2 separate regions of the Homo sapiens genome follow, and region 2 is linked to region 1. Evidence: fine-mapped expression QTL. A gene starts in region 1. The other region holds a variant in brackets. All regions are shown on one strand. Distances are between the middles of the regions. Region 1 holds the start of DST (dystonin). Region 2 holds the start of DST-AS1 (DST antisense RNA 1).

What was found. PIP is the estimated chance that this variant, and not a neighbour inherited with it, causes the effect.
Region 2: its variant is fine-mapped to the expression of DST in whole blood (TOPMed, PIP 0.98).

Annotation. Positions count from the first base shown.
Region 1 is chr6:56,952,067-56,957,446 of GRCh38, reverse strand. DST (dystonin) reads left to right here and starts at 2,617. Exons shown (of 104, transcript NM_001374736.1): 1 at 2,617-3,040; 2 at 3,628-3,662. The coding sequence starts at 2,860. BEND6 (BEN domain containing 6) reads right to left here and starts at 2,340. Exons shown (of 7, transcript NM_152731.3): 1 at 1,987-2,340. RefSeq lists a silencer at 2,152-2,841 and an enhancer at 3,003-3,634.
Region 2 is chr6:56,840,176-56,845,555 of GRCh38, reverse strand. All of the region lies in intron 4 of DST (dystonin), which reads left to right. DST-AS1 (DST antisense RNA 1) reads right to left here and starts at 1,570. Exons shown (of 4, transcript NR_125866.1): 1 at 1,490-1,570. RefSeq lists silencers at 1,148-1,287, 1,628-1,827, 1,918-2,177 and enhancers at 1,261-2,128, 2,129-2,997. The variant G/C (reference allele first, on the strand shown) is at 2,408.

The DNA.
Region 1 (5,380 bases):
TATGTATGCTGTTATTTGGAAAAAATGATAAATTAGCAACAAACAAATCAGAAAATAACAATGGAACTAAATACTAAATTCTTTCAAGGATTTGGTTTGTTTATTATTAGTATCTTTAAGACAACTGATGGAAAGAACAGAAATGAATGCATCTAAAAAGAAATATCTATAATCCTATTGCATGGCAGTTAAGCATTTGCCTGCCAAGAGAGATAAATGATGTTCTTGTGTGCACTTGAAACTTATAAATGGCTGCAGCAAGACGCAGGATGATAACAGTTGTGCTAAAGTCATAGCTCAGAAAACCATAATAGCTATTTAGTTGCTTTTTGTTGTTAAAAAAATATAGCGTTTGGGGCAATTTGAATACTATTCTGTGTGTCTTTGACATGTTTCTGTTCAAGGATACGTAGGCTATTTCAGCTCACTTACAAATTTCAGTCAATGAGAAGCATAAAGATGACCTTCCAAAATTCTGTTAGTTATTTCCCCCAATGTCTGCACACGGTTAGTTCAGTTTTGTTGTTTAAAATTACTCCACCATGCCATTGTTGAGTCAATGCGGTGGAGAATTCTTCCTTTCCTGATGTGCCACACATTGCAAACTCTCAGGATTTTCTTCAATAACCTCTGCATAATTGTTGAATAGTTTCTCACTGCAGTGGGCTGCGGTATCAAGAAACCTTTAGCCATATGCACATGATGTAGTGCTACCTGTCACCCACTCTGAGTGCTAGAGACCCATGAAGCCTATCCTGGAATTCAGTGCAGCCTACATGCTGCCATTCAAAATTCCCACCTTATGCAGTGTCTCCAAGCAAGGGCCCTTCTGAGTTCAATCCAAAACAACTGAATGAATGAGATGCAACATGTCAACAATTCGAATGTTTATTTTGTTTAAGGAAACCAGCTGTAAACAAAACGTATCTGTTGTTTTCCATGCTTATGAATCTGGCACTAAGAGACTGCATTAACCAATGCCTTTTTAGGTTTAATACTTACACACGGTAATATGTTACTGGCTTTAAGGACATCAATGATTAAGCTTTCATGCAGAGCTGTACGGTTTTGTATAGTTGGAAAACAACACTGATTTTGAGATCACTACAAGCAAATAAAACTTTTATTCCTCCCAATTATTTACCTGCTTTTCAAATTTTTATAAATTTTTATGACACAATTTCTTCAGTCTATTAAATATTCCAAAAAAGAGGCTAATACAGTTGTTATAAGAAACTCCGCAAATGCAGTCAAGTGTTACCTTGTCACTATAATTAAAGTTTTCTTATGCGAGTAAATGAAACAAACAATCCAGCCCCACACAGGGAAAGCCAGCATTGCCTTGGGGGCAGCAGAACGCGGCACAGCACCGCCCGCCAAGGCCGCAAGATGCCGCAGAATGACTGCTGCAGCAGCCGCTTCCTGGCCAGGTGGCCGTGGCCGTCCGCAGAAAGGCACACTGCAGCGCTCTCGCTATACCTTCCGTGCTGGCATTGCATCAGTGTTAAATCCCCTGGCCACCAACTGCCATATACTTTTTGCTGGTTATGAAGAAACGTGGGGAGGGGACAAAGGGGAGACAGAGTGTGCCTGCAAGTGTGAGAGATCACTATTGCCTCACACTCCCTAAAAAATTTCTCCCCCAAATGTTTATAAGCCAAGTACCAACTTACTTCATCTGCCAGGTCCCTAAATCTGAAATCGCCTTGCCCTTCAAATGCACTAAATGAGTCAGGGTTTTAGGGCAAACCCAGGGATACAAGAAGATCGAAAGTGCCCAATTCTTAGCTGCGAGATAAGCACCAAGTTTGGGGTGGAAGAGTTCACCTCTGCCGACCAGAGCGTACTACCCCGGAGCGCTCCTAGTTTAGAGAGGCTTGGAGAGGAGTGGGCCTCCCGTTCCTGGAGTATCCCAATTCCCAGGGAAGGCCCTTCCCGGCGCTCGCGCTTCAGAGTGCGAGGAAACCCCCACAAGCAATAGCTCACCCGGCTGCATTCTTCAAAGCCCCAACCTCGGGGCGGGGCGCAGGGAGGTGGGAGGTGGAGGGTAGCACCGCCGGGAGGCTCCTGTCAGCGCCTCTCGGTTTTCCCCCTGGCTCCTTGGCGCCCCCTGACGACGGGCTCCGCAGCAATTTGGCCGAGGGAGGCTGGATAGGCGGAAGCTCCGGGTGTCCGGGAAGCTAGAGGCACCCGGCCAATGCACCCGCGGACGGCGCGGACTGGCGGGCGGCCCCGCGGGAGGGCGCTGGGCTCTCAGGCCCGGGTGCAGCCCGCGGACGCCGCCGAAACCGCCGCAGCCATGTCCGCGCGCCCGCGCTGCCGCAGCCTGGCCGTGATGTCATCAGCCGAGCCCCCGCCGCGGCGCCCCATTCCCGCCCCCCGCAGGCTGCCGCGGCTGCAGCCTGAGCGCCGCGTCCCCGCCCCGACCCACGTGCGCCCGGCTTCTGGGATGCTGAGGTCGGCGGCGGCCGCAGGACGATGCGCGGGGCCCGGGCGGCCGCGGCGGCGGCGCTGCTCCTCCCCACTCGCCGCGTCCCCGGCGGGGCTGCGCCCGGGGGCTGCGCACGGACGGGGGCGGGGGCGCCTGGGGAGGGAGGGGAGAGGATCCCAGCCGCCGAGTCGCAGCCTCGTCGCTGTCTGCTGAGTCATGGCAAGCGCTCCCCGCAGCCCTGGATCACTCGCGTAGCGCGGCTGGCGCGGGGTGCGCAGCCATTGGGCTGGGCGCGGGGCCGCGAGCGCCAGGCATGACGCGCTGAGCCGCGCTCACCCGTGCCCGCCGTCCCGGCGTGCGCCCAGCGCGGGTGCCTGTGCCGCCGCCCTCCAGCCCCGCCGTCGAGTCGCCCTCGCCTCGCCCGCACCATGATCGCCGCGGCTTTCCTCGTCTTGCTGAGACCCTACAGCATCCAATGTGCCCTCTTCCTCTTGTTGCTTCTGCTGGGCACCATCGCCACCATCGTCTTCTTCTGCTGCTGGCACCGCAAGCTCCAGAAAGGGAGGCATCCGATGAAATCGGTCTTCTCGGGTCGTTCAAGAAGCCGAGGTAAGACACGCCGCGACGGGTTTCTGCGGGCTACCAGGAACAATTAAGCCGATTTGGAGAGTGAAGCGCGGCTCGCTCCCTTCTCCTCGGCTGCCCCTAGCCCCATCATTGCCCACTCCCCAGGCTGAGTGCGTTTCTTTAACGCCCCTTGCCCTTTTTGCCGTCACCTCCGCCCTCCAGTCTCCCAGGTTTGAATAACCACGGCGATGCCGAGGGCAGGGAGGGGAGGAAAGAACTCAAATTTTTAGTCAGTTTGCTAAAGCCTTAAGGGTAATTTGAGCGTAGTCCGGGGCTGCGCCAGCCTCGCCTTCACGCATCCTTCGCTGGAGCGTAGGGGTAAGAAAGTAAGGCATGGAAACTTCGGGGCTCCCCAACTCCCCCAGAACTTTCATGCAAACTTCTCGCGGAGAAATCACGTAGAGACCGATGGCCCCAGGACTCCTCCTCCCTCCCCCAGGATGTCCCACCGAATTCCAGGAGTCTGCGATGTGCTTTCCCAACCCTGGTCTCCCAGGTAAGTCATGAGTCACTCGGTAGGTGAAGAACAAGGAGTTAAATGAAGTCTCATTTATCTCTTTTCTCCCCAGATGCTGTTTTGAGATCGCACCACTTTCGTTCTGAGGTAATTTATTTAGCGCGCACGCTCAAGGTCAGAAGAAGTTCTCTTTCCTGAGTACCAATATTAATTATATGCGTGTTAAGAAACCAGTAGGACACTGAATGACGAACATGCTGTCCCCTAGCCGAAAGTGGCATGTTTCCTTTTAAGTGATTTCATATTAGTGCCCAGCGAACGGTTTTAGCAAATTTCTTGTGTAGTGGAGCTGTTGTACAAGAGGGGAAAAGGCAAACCCTAAAAGTGCTGCAGACCTTAAAAAACTTAGCCACAGGGTGGATGTCACTTGAGTTTACAGTTTATATTTTGCTGGTGGAAGTGTTTTCTGGGTGCTGTCAGTTGACTCTGGTTGTTCACTTGGATAAACGAAGAGGTTAGTGCAGAACAATTTGATCCATATGCATTTCATTTTCGATTTTCAAGTTTACATTTCTGTTTTCTCCTAAAGCTCTCCATGTTTTATTGGGGACCATCTGATGATTTTTGCAAAGCGATGATGGTAGTGTGTGCTTAAATGCTTGTGCTAGTCTCCACTCTCAAAACGTGGACCATCCCTCTAGGGCAAGTAACTCCTAATCACTGCACCCAGGAACCAGCTCCACTGAAGAAACACAAGCGCTCCTTGACCTAGGATTTCTTTAGGAGTTTTCAGGCCAACCTCCACTTATCCTAAGATAATTTCCCCTCTTTTTAGGAAAGTTGCACGCCGCCAGGCTTGGAGGTTGCTGCTTGGTGCAGTTTACTCATGTTGGCAAAGACTTCATAGTTAAACGCCCTCCATTTACCTGAAGTTATCTTGCCTTTCATTTCATTAGTTAATCAGATATTTTATGCCACCCTAGATGTTTTATTGGGTTCTAGTTGCTTAAAAACTTTAACTGTATTATTGCAATATCATTAAAATGTTGCACAAAGAGTAATTCTACTGTATATAGCCCTGGAAGGTGAGAACTCTATTCAGTTTAGGATTCTTGAGAGGATAAGTGAGGTAATCAGAGGTTCCATTCCTGGCTTTACATTAACTAGCTGTGTGATACATCTCGGTGCCTCGATTTACCCATCTGTAAGATAGGGCCATTAGTACCTTGCAGGGTTATGGGAGGGTGGAGGAAATTACAAGAAATTGTGTAAAGAAAAATCCCACTTAGTTCATAATAAGTATTCAGTATTTGGTAGCTATCATTATATTTTGTAAAATTGAATTTTAAAATGTATAAAAATAAACGATAATGTTTGCAAATTTCCAAGTCTTTATTAAATTACTTAATTAAAGTTTATGGAAAACATCAAAAACCGGGACTATCGTAAAGCAACAATTTTTGAATATGAGATTAATTCAATAGAACAGCCCATTCAGATGTGATGAGAAGTAAATAATTGACAGAGTGCAAACACCAAAATATAAGATTTTGATTTTAAAAAGAGATACCCAGTTCCACACACATAAATGATAGAACAAGAATAATAATCCTGTTTTGGATTATTATACTAGCCATCAGATATTTCAGCTAAAGCACAAACAAAAAATGAGATACAACTATGTCTTGTTTAATTATCTCTCAGTTGAATATTTTTGTTCTGAGCTTGCATTTGGTTAGGAAAGCTGGGGGTAGTTGTTTAATGCCTTAACTCACTTCATAAGATTCCTGGTACAGTTTGACATCTTTGTGTGGTATTTGCCTTGTCTACTAGACTGTGAGCTCCTTGAGGGCAGGACCATATCT
Region 2 (5,380 bases), 110 kb after region 1:
CGAGCTGTAAGAAAACTCTAGTAACCTTAAAGACTTACTGGGACAGTGGTTCAAACTCAGATTATAAACCAGTGGTCAGGATAGAAAAAAGAGATGTGGTCTTGCTTTGTTTGGAGTAACAGAAGTAGGCCAATTGCTGAGGAGTGCTCCAGTTCTATCTCAAGTCAGTTTTTTTTTCCCACGAGTACACAATTTTTTCTTTCAAGAGGAACTCATCCCTATCTAAGCATTAATGGAAAATGGTCCATAGTTCACAACACCCAACGCTAACAAAGAAATAAAAAATCATGGAGGGCAAAAGGTCAGTATATGTGAAAGGAGGAAATAGGGAAGGAAGATTTAGACAAGACGTGAAGTTGACATAGGTCAGACTGTCAACAATCAGCTGATTTATCTAATAATAGCAGTAGCAATGAGGTATCATCCTGTCACTGTACTCCAGCCTGGATGACAGAGTGAGACCCCACCTCCTAAATAAAGTAGTAGGTGCAGCAGCTAATCCTTATATAACACCAGACATTATTCTAAACTTCATTTACTATACAACTTTATGAGTTAGGCACTACTATCGCTGTTTTACTGATGAAGAGAGTCTCAGAGAGGATAAGTAACTTGCCCATGTGACACAGTAAGGAGTGAAGATTCTATGTACAGCAGCCTGACTTCACTGTTTTTTTTTTTTTTGAGACGGAGTCTTGCTCTGTCGCCCAGGCTGGAATACGGTGGCGTGATCTCGGCTCACTGCAACCTCCACCTCCCGGGTTCAAGCAGTTCTCTGCCTCAACCTCCCGAGTAGCTGGGATTATAGGTACCCGCCACCACGCCCGGCTAAATTTTGTATTTTTAGTAGAGACGGGATTTCACCATTTTGGCCAGGCTGGTCTTGAACTCCTGACCTCGTGATCCACCCGCCTCGGCCTCCCAAAGTGCTGGGATTACAGGCGTGAGACACCGCGCCCGGCCAGTCATTACTCTTAAACACATCCATTTACATGCCTGGGTATCAGTTGGTTCCTCCAATGGACGCTTAAACTCACCCACTTTAGTATATGATACACATATATCTAATTTAAGGGAACTGTATCCATTTTACTCAGTTTAATGGATACTAGTACTATGTAGAATGAATAATAAGGAGAGAGCAGGAGGGAGGTGATAAATATGGGGCAGTTGTGAACCTATAGGCCCGCCGCGGAGCCCAGCAGCAGATGCGCCTGTGGGCTCTGGGGGGCAGAAGGGAGGGACCGCAGGCTGGTACTCGGCAGCCTCGCGGCGGCCGGGAGCTCAGGCGCAGGCGCGGCCCGGCTGTCAGGCGCTGATGCGCGGGGCCACCTGCAGAGGCCTCCTCACCCTGTCCCCGGGATGTCCCCTAGACGCGGACCCCCGTGCCCTCCTTGCCCTGTGCTGTCACAGAGTGACCTGAATCCTCCCACGCCAAAAAGATGGGTGGAAGAAAGTATTTCCAACCCTCCCCCCGATCATCCCTTACCCAGGGAGAGCCGCTGGCCCCTCAGCAGGGGGCTGCGCACAGCGGTGGAGCGATCTGCGGCTTTGTTTCTCAGGCACCTGTTGTGGATCCCAAATAGAAACGTCGCCCTTGGGGATCCGGGACCGGGCAGCCAGTGTCCGGGGGTGGGCGTGCTTGGCCGCACGGTCCACCAGGGTGGGCGGGCCTGGGGAGGGGGCCTGGGGCGCGTGGCTCTGCCTGGGAGGGAGGGGCCGAGAGGCGCCGGGGCCGGAGCTGAGCCAGCCGGGGCGCTGACCGCCGCGCTCGCCCCCTCCCTTCCGCCCTCCGCCCTCCACCCTCCACCCTCCACCCTCCACTCTCCACCCTCCACCCTCCACCCTCCTCCCTCCCTCTCTCCCCGGCGCGGGCGAGTGTCTGCGGCGCGGCGGCCAGGAAATGCCGCAGATGCGCCGCGCAGCATCCCCGGTGAAGGCAGCGCGCCGGTCCTCCCGCACCGCTGCCGCGGCCTCGGCCCGGCCCGAAGCACGCGCCTCGTGCAGGGCCAGCAGAGCGGTCAGCGCGGCCGCAGAGGGTCCGGGCGCCCGCCGGCCCCCGCCCGCCCTCGCCGCACGCCCCGCTCCTCCGCTTGGCGTGGCGCTGCTCGTCGCCGCCCCTGGGCTCGCTGAGATTTGCCGCTGCTGAAACCCGAGAGGGACTCGGGCTCCCGGAGCCGGGCGGCCCACCATCGGCCTGCCCGGAGGCCTGGGCGTTTCCTTTGCCGGCCCTGGCGCCGGCAGCCCCCTGCGCCCCCGCTCTGCGTCTTCGGCTTCCGTGCTTCTCCCCAGCGTGCTGCTCCTTCCTCTTTTCCAGTTCCCAAGGCTGTGTCTTGCTGACTGCGATACTGTCCGGGGGTTACGAGGGGGAGAGGGGAATTTGTCAGTCATCGCTTAGATAAACTTC[G/C]GCATGGCGGGTTACCTCTCCCCTGCTGCTTACCTGTACGTGGAGGAGCAGGAGTATCTCCAGGCCTACGAGGATGTCCTGGAGAGGTACAAAGGTATGTGGTCCCTGCCCTGGGGCTGCGGAGCTTGGCACTGATCAGAGAGGCAACCGCTGCCTTTCCTTAATCAGAGCCACCACTCCTTGGGCACGAGTAAACAGGTGTCTGGACCAGTCTTGGGAATGGACCAGGTCTTTTTGCACGGGATTTAGTACCCCCAGCGCAGGGAGGATGGTGGGGTGGGCGACAGTCCGGAGACGCCCTTAGATGAGCGGTAGAGAGGGGGGAAGGGGGTTGTTTCCAAGAAGCACATTGCGTTTTCTCTCCCTTGTAAAAGCTCTTAAGCACTACGCGTAATCATAATTCTTCCTGGGAGGGTGGATACCGATTATTCTCTATGGGATTACTAAGGCATTGCTGCTGCTGCTTGGCTAGGGTATTGGTTAGCCCTGTAGAAAAGGTTCAGCATCACTAGATCATTTTCCTTAAAATGATCTTTCTTATTTGATAAAGTTTGTGACTATATACTTACTCTGATATATTGTAAAAATTATTTTATAGCGTGATGGATAAAAGACTTTAGTGAGTTTGTTGTAAATTTAAATGTAAAGAATGTATTTTGAGATTTTTTTCTGCCCATCCTTTATGTTCAGGAAATTCTATGCCAATCTGATATTTATGTTTTAGTATAATGTTTACTTGGACTTCATAGTTGAATATAATGATGAAATACAAATTGCAGCTGTCCATTTTTTAAGTGTTTTTGTGTCTGGAAATGTATTTTTAAGTGTGTGTATACCATCTTTTTATTGTGGCTCCCAAAACACTCCGAACTCAAGAGCAGCTCACAGAGGTTTAAAGTATTTATAGTGAATAGTGACCCATTTCATAGGTAGGATTCAGATGGTTTTATATCTTTTGAATATTTGCTTTGGGTTTGGTAACTCAATGTCAGTAATTTCAGTGGTATTATATGGTTAATGATGCATGTAGTTTTTCTATTAGTAGAAAGTAGAAATAAAAAAAAATTGAACTAAACAATAAAATTCCAAAGCCCCAAAAAGCCCAAATACACTCACAATTGTTTTCTCTCTTTGTAGGATATGTTTTATAACCGAAATTCTTGCAATCCTTGTAGAATTTTGTAAACAGTACAATGAGAATTCCTTTGTGCCAAGACTCTTATTGTGTATAATACTGCCACTGAGCAAGTGCAGTGATATTTTAGGCTAAAGCACATTTGTGACATTTGTGTGTGTGTGTGTGTGTATGTGGGTGGGTGGGTAATATACTCATGTTTACCTGCATCACTCCATTTTAAAGTAAGGTTTGTAATTAGTTGTTTCCAGAGCTTTGAAAAGGAGAAATATTGCAATATAGACCAACAAACCTTATTGAAGAAATACATCTGTGCTCTATACAGTCAGAAATAAAAAAATCTGAAAGTTCTAAAGTAGATACATTTTATACTTTTGAAAAAAATTATAGCTGAATGAATTTTTGTCACATGAAGTTTTACTTAAGTGACACGTGGGTGATTTCAGGTGACTGAAAACGAGTGCTTATTTGACTTTGTCTAAAAGAAGTAGGCATTGTTTAAAAGCTTGTCTTTGCCTTTGGAAATAAAAGGAAATTAAAGATCTGAAGGCCAGTGTACAACAATCAGTATTGCCCTTAAACAGATACATTTTCAAACATATTGTTCAGACGTCACTGAAAAAATGATGGGAGTTTTCCTCATTTTTACTTAAGGTTTTTAAAATGCTTAGTTCATCAATTTGTACTTGGGCTTTATAGCTGTGCTATGTTTCATTTAGTCATGGAAAGGAAAGTAAGAGTATTGGGCAGTGTATTCCATGAAAAGCTGGAGACCTGGAAAACTCATTGTTTCCCGATGTGTTTTGAAGCCAGTTATGATTTCCCATCAGTATCCAGTATGATGACTTCACTACACTGCTTATTATCCTGGTGACTTGCTGTGGGGACTGATCTAATCAGAAAAGAATTGTAGGCTTTGAATAGGGAGTGTCAGTTCACTAAACGTTCAGAGTACGGTTGCTCACTTTCTGAAATCATGCATTGTTCAAAACATTTTATGTTCTCATTTAAACTTAAAGGGAAGTCATTTTGATTTTATTTCTGACAGAGTTCCTTGGTTACAGAATGAGTTTGCATTCATCTAGAATATTATCAGGTTGCCAAGTTATCATATGCCTCAGCTGTTGAGTAGTGTAAGTGGTGGAGTCAGCTGGAACCAATTCAAAATCTGCCTGTTGTCAGAAATGTAGAATTGTAATAATCTATAATGTTAGGAATTATGAGCATTAGATTTAGAAGTCGAGAGTTTTGTTAGGTCTAGTCTTCAGACAGCCTTGAGAGGAGTTCAAATCAGACTCTGTAGAAAAACAAGAAAAGTGGAGAGTGAGCGCTAATTATTTATGGTGTAGTCAGTCTATTCTTGTATCTTGTTTTGGTCCATTACTTCTGAGCAAAAATAGGCAACTGTTTGCTGAATTAGAATAACACAGAAAGAGCTATTTGCTACAAAGAAGGGTGCAGTGTTCTGATTCATATTCGAGTCCTGTTACTTGTAAAATATATTCATGGAATATTCAGGGACATCTGATTAAAAAAACATATTTCTTCAGCTGATACCAAACTTCGGCTGAATAAAGGCATTTATTTTTGAGTAAAACATAATTCTTTATTATTGTTTAGGCTAGAAATTGTCTACATCAGAATGGCTTTCTTTTATATCTATAGTAAATTATCCAGTGTATATACCGTGTAATACAAAACATTCTTAGTAGCTTAGCTTAAAAGATACAGTAGTATCTTATTTTTTTTCTTAAGTGTAAGGAAACTAACCCATATGCTGTTATTATAAATGATTAATTAGTTCTCATCTTATGAAATTCTGCTTTTTGAGTTTATCA